Regions from separate parts of the Homo sapiens genome. Here region 2 is linked to region 1. The links come from fine-mapping of genetic effects on gene expression. Tissue or cell type: blood mononuclear cells. Region 1 holds a variant in brackets; the other region holds the start of a gene. All regions are shown on one strand. Distances are from middle to middle.

Evidence for each region. PIP is the estimated chance that this variant, and not a neighbour inherited with it, causes the effect.
Region 2: it holds the start of APBA1, and the variant in region 1 is fine-mapped to the expression of APBA1 in blood mononuclear cells (TOPMed, PIP above 0.99).

What each region holds. Positions count from the first base shown.
Region 1 is chr9:69,452,609-69,455,365 of GRCh38, reverse strand. The region is part of intron 8 of APBA1 (amyloid beta precursor protein binding family A member 1); the gene reads left to right. Among named protein-coding and RNA genes, the nearest start is that of ENTREP1, 130 kb to the right of the region's middle. The variant A/G (reference allele first, on the strand shown) is at 1,350.
Region 2 is chr9:69,671,263-69,673,762 of GRCh38, reverse strand. It overlaps APBA1 (amyloid beta precursor protein binding family A member 1), which reads left to right and starts at 1,392. Exons shown (of 13, transcript NM_001163.4): 1 at 1,392-1,610. RefSeq lists silencers at 1,315-1,364, 1,545-1,624.

The DNA of each region.
Region 1 (2,757 bases):
AGAAGCCGCCTCCCAGGGGAGGCCACAGCCCTATAGTAATTTTTAATAGCAGAAAACTCACCCACCCCCTGAGGGCCATTGCTTTTGACTGTGCTCATTTTTCCTCCTGACACAGAGGAATAGGCTCTGTTTCTCACATGGAGCACGGAGTCCTGATCTGGGAAGAGAAGATGGCGTCTGATAGCCTTGGTTCCTTCAAAGAGGCCCTTCTTCTCCAGTACAGCATTCGTCTAGCTGCAGAAATTGCCTTCCTCTCGGAAGTTAGGTGTCAGCAGCCATCCTGCTTTTTTCTCCGGGGAACCAGAGCTGTCGTGGCTGTGGGCACAGAGAGGAGGAGATGCCAACACTTACTGTCACCATCTTTTATTGGTCTTGTTCTCTAGAAAGCAGCACAGGACAAGGTCACTGGGAGAACAGAGAGCTTGAAATACCTCTGCCTGCCATTCTCCCTACTGTTCCTGTAAAGCTGAGGCCAACATGCAAACGGGGAAAATGAGTTTTAGGAGGTTCTCAGAAAGTTCCAAAAGAGTGAAAATTTGGACTTTTAAGCCTCCTGTGTCCTGCAGGCCAGCGAAAAGATGAAGTTACAGGGATCGAGGATCCCTGTAGGCCCCGCTGCTACCTCCATCTGGCTGGAGCTCATAGGGAGGGGTTTCTTCTCCTTGGGGTACCCTTGGATCCATCAGGGAAGAAAGGAAAGATTGGAGAAGCAAGAGGTAGGCAAGAGTGGACCTGAGAATCTTACCCCTTTGCTTTCACTAGAGCAGGGCCAGAGTGTGCTGGCTCCAGAATTGGGCAAGCTGAGCTTGAGTCCTTCCTCATCCAAGCTGTGCAGCCACTAAGCCTCAAGTTCCTCTTCTGCAGGACGATAGTACCTCCCTCACCAGGCTGCTGTGGCACTCTCATAGATATTGCAGTTAAAGCCTGATGTGTGGCACATGGCTAGTGGTCCATAAATCTCAGTAGCCAGTGTATTCACCAGGGGCATCCACTAATGATGATCAGGAAGTCGACTGGTCACATTCCCAGGTATATATTTTTCAGTTTGTCTGCATGTACCTCTCTGATGCCAAAAGCAATGCCTTACTCCTTCCAGTTTTACAATAGGTAGATGGTGGTAGTTCTTGATGTGATTTGTAAAGTCATCAGATTCTAACAGTGAGAAAAGTTAAGTATTTCTTTTCCCATAGCCAGCCACACGGAAAGTTCCCATTTTGCTGTTAATAAGGTGCTTTTAGGAAAGGTGGGGAAAGAGCAGTGGAGGTTAGAATTGTGTTTTTAAAACACCGCTCTAGAGATTTTCTGGTTTGGCTTTTTCTGCCCATCAGAATTTCACAGAGAAGCCTTCC[A/G]GTGTGGTGGGCAGGAGGATGGGCTCTGGATTCAGCCCCCAGCCCCTTCTCAGGAAGTGTGCAGTTTAACCCCTCAACCTCCATATCCTGTTCTACCCAGTGGGGACACTAATACAGATCCATAGTTCCAAAGTCTAGAAAGCTCTGAGAAACAAAAGGGATTTTTGAAGTCAGGTGGCTGATAAACTTGCCTTGCCTGCTGGCAGGCCGTTTATAGAATTTGTCTAGCTTACCATGAATCTTACAGATTTTGCCACAGAAATGTTACTGTGCTCTGTGTACTTCCCCAGACCGTCAGGGGGTTATGGCACAATGTACAGTATTTGCACCCTGCTACCTTTCTAAAATTGGAAAAGTTTTGAATTCTGAAGCAGAGCCTCTTGCATTCCAAGTGAAGGATTGTGGACCAGTCATACTAATAGCTGTCATAGAATCGATATGCAGATTCAGTGATGGTCCTTGTATAGCATTTACTTTTCATAGCATATACCTTGTATAGCATTTACTGCAGCATAGCCACATGAGAAGTGCTCAGTTGCTCTTGGCTGTCTGGATTAATAATGTTGCTTAATTAATGCAGGGAAAAGCTATCAAAACCCAGTGTAGAAGCCAGTGCCACCTCCTGCAAGCTGTGTGAATTTGAGAGGTTCCTTTGTGTCTCTGGGCCTCCATCTCCTCAACTGGAAAATGCAGGGTTGGACCAGTCAGAGTTCTCAACTCTGTTAGACCCAACCCTCCCTTTCTACAATAAATATCTTATTAATGACCCATTACTATCCTGAAATGAAATTCATAGCTAATATAACCTCCCCTATTGAAAAATCTTTCACAGAATAATCAAATTGTGGCCATAAATATAATATAAAGGAAAGATAAGTGGAAAGCAAACTAAAATAAAACCATATTACAATATGTATTAATAAATGCTCTGGCGCAACCATTCTGAAAGGCATAATGAGATAGTGAGATGCTTATGCCTACTTGATTAAGCTTGGATGTAGGAGAACGCAGTGTGCAGTGGGATATCATAAACTTTCCAGTTGACATTTCAAATTGAGGGCCAAATAATATGTATGTATCTACAAGCACATGCATAATCACCATGCATGACAGCACACGTGCAGGTTGATAGGGATGTGATTTATCGGCAACACAGATATCACAGCAGCGCTGATGTTGATTTTCCAAAGTCATGAAGTTTCCTCCTGGTGAAGTACTGAATGAAGCAAAATAACATCATCTCTCAATTCAGACGGTATTATTCTTGAAATGTTCGATGTGTATTAGAGCCATACAAAGTCTTTGTGTTTATGTATAAATTGGAGTTGAATCCTGGACTCAGGTAACTGTAAACAAGTATTGCATGCACATGAATGTCCAGAGGGATCTGTGAAGATGGTGCAGGGTA
Region 2 (2,500 bases), 220 kb before region 1:
GGACAAGCAGACATCTTCCTAGTATATAATTTTAAATTTTACTAAAATCTTTTTGAGAAGGTAGCTATTGTTTTATTAAAGCAAAAAAAAATTACAAAGTACAATGCAAAATTCATATGAATTTTAAAGCTAAAACAAGACTTTCAGAATGCTTTAGGCTACACCCCCAGACTTCTCTAGAGACGTGCTTAAAATAATATGGAAACACGGTGTGGTAAAAGATCCATTTCCCAAGGGATCTGGATAACCAGCGCTTATCTTCATTTTACTGGAGAATACATGTGCGGAGAGGGCTTTGCAAACTACAAGGCTTTGTGCATTATAACATTATTATGGAAAAATCTGTGTTTCTAAGAGGGGGAATGATTTAGCTATTGCATTGCCAATTACAGGTGGGGCTGGCGCCAGAGCCCAGGCCTCCCGGGGCCTGTCTAGCCCACAGCTTTTCATTAATGCACAGCACTTGCCACCTGGTCCCTGCCGCAAAGGGTGGCCTCTCGAGTTAGGAGCCATATCTAGGGCGGATGGCCTGTGCTAGGCTCAAAGACACTTAAGTTCCGATCAACCAGAACTGAGGAGCGGGTAGGAAAACCAAGCCGAGCCTTCCTCGGCTTCACAATCCGCAGGCTCTCCGCTGTCCCCGGCGGGACTCGGCAGTTCCCCTGGAGGGCTGCAGCCCGGCTGTCTTCGCTCAGGCCCAAGCCCGCGCGGCTCTCCCCCTGGCGGAGAACTCGCAGGACTGCGACGCATTCCGGAGACGCCGTCAATCTCCGAATTTGAAGCGCAGGCGATATCTAAGGGGCCTGGGAAGCGGGAAAGCTCGGGAGTCACTCCGGAGAGAACACCCTGCAGGAGTCGACGCGGCTGCCTGGCTTCGTGGTCCTGCAGCGTGGCCCGTTGCTTCGCGCAGAGGTTGGCCACAGCTGCTGGCTAGGAAACTGGGGACCACCTGGGTTGCCACCGAGGAGGGTGGAGGCCCCCGTCAGTCCCCTCGGGGATGCAGCTGCATTTTCCCCTCCTTGCGTCCGGCCGGGAGCCAGAGGATGGGGCTGTGGAACCCATTCCGAAAGGCAGGGCGGGCCCTTCGGAACCCGGACGCGAGGGAAGGCGAGAGGCGCGGGTGTGCCGCACGCCCACCGGCGCCGGGGCAGGGGCGCTGCAGCCGGCGGCCCACGGAGGACATCAGCGGTGCCGCCGCCGCCGCCGCGGGCTCGCGGGCCGCGCGCGCACGCGAGTGGGCGAGGGAGGCAGGGGCGCTACTAGCAGGCGGCGTGCGCGCGCGCGCTCCCCCGCGCCCTCCCTCGCAGGCCCGCCCGGCCCCAGCGCGCGTCACGAGGGGCCAGCGAGCTAGCTGGAGGGCGGGAGGGAGGGTGGGGAAAGGGGGTGGGGCCGCGAGACCGGAGGGGTCCGAGCAGCGGCTGCGGAGCCGGAGCTGGGCGAGGGCGGCTGCGGTCCCGGCGGCGGCGGCGGCGGCGGCAGCTGCGGCGGGAGAAGATGGTGGCGCTGGAGGCAGCAGCGGCTGGAGCGGAGCTTTATTCCCAGGCTTGGCACCAGCGCTGTCACTAGCGCCGCCTGCTCCCGCGGGCCCGCGGACCCAGCTGTCAGGCAAGGTACCACAGCCAGGGAGGGGTGGGTGAGAAGGGGTGCCCGGCGCTGATGCGGCCCCCGACGGAGCCCGGGTCCTCGCCAAAGGGCGCCCCCGGACGCGAGAGGGGCTGCCTGGAACAATAGTGCGGAGGAGCGGAGGCAGCAGGCGACATCCAGGAGGCAGTGCCTGGAACCATCAGCTAGCGAGGCGGGGGAAGGCGGCGTTGCGAGCGAGACGCCTGGGGTCCGGTGCCCGCTGAGATGCCGGGCTTCGGGCGCAGCAGGCGGGCCTGATGACAGTCATGGCAGGAGTGAGTGTGTGAGAGTGTGTGTGTAAAAGGTACAGCAGAGGGGATGGGGTGGCGGACGGAGGTGTTGGGGGGTGACATTTCCAGGAATCCCCGCTAGGACCCCCTCATCTCTCGGCTGACTCTCCTGGAGAAAGAATGTGATGATGGAAACGGTGAGGTGGGCAGGATGCACTTGGTGTGTGAAGTGTGGAGGGAGGCAGTGGGATAGGGGCCGGTTTGTAAAATCCTGTATATGTGTGTGTACGCGTGTGGTTGCATCCACGTTCCCCAAACTGCGCCCCAAATCCAGAGATCTGCCGCTGCCCTTACTTGATGTCACCGGCTAAGACTGTGGGACAGTGTTTGTTATTTTGACCCTGCAACTCTGAGCACAGTGTCTGTTCTGCTCCTGCGTGTGGATGGCCCAGTGTAGGGATTCTCGCTTCCCCTTCCTCTGGCCTCATGACATGGGGATGTGGAAGTGAGCATGTTGCTTTGAGGCACATGGCAGGGAAATAGGATAACCGTTACACATTCTGGGCTTGCTAATGTACCTGGTTTTGAAGGGGCCTTCCATCCTGTGATACTACTTCTCTCCTTAGCACCTGTTCCATAAGGGTCTT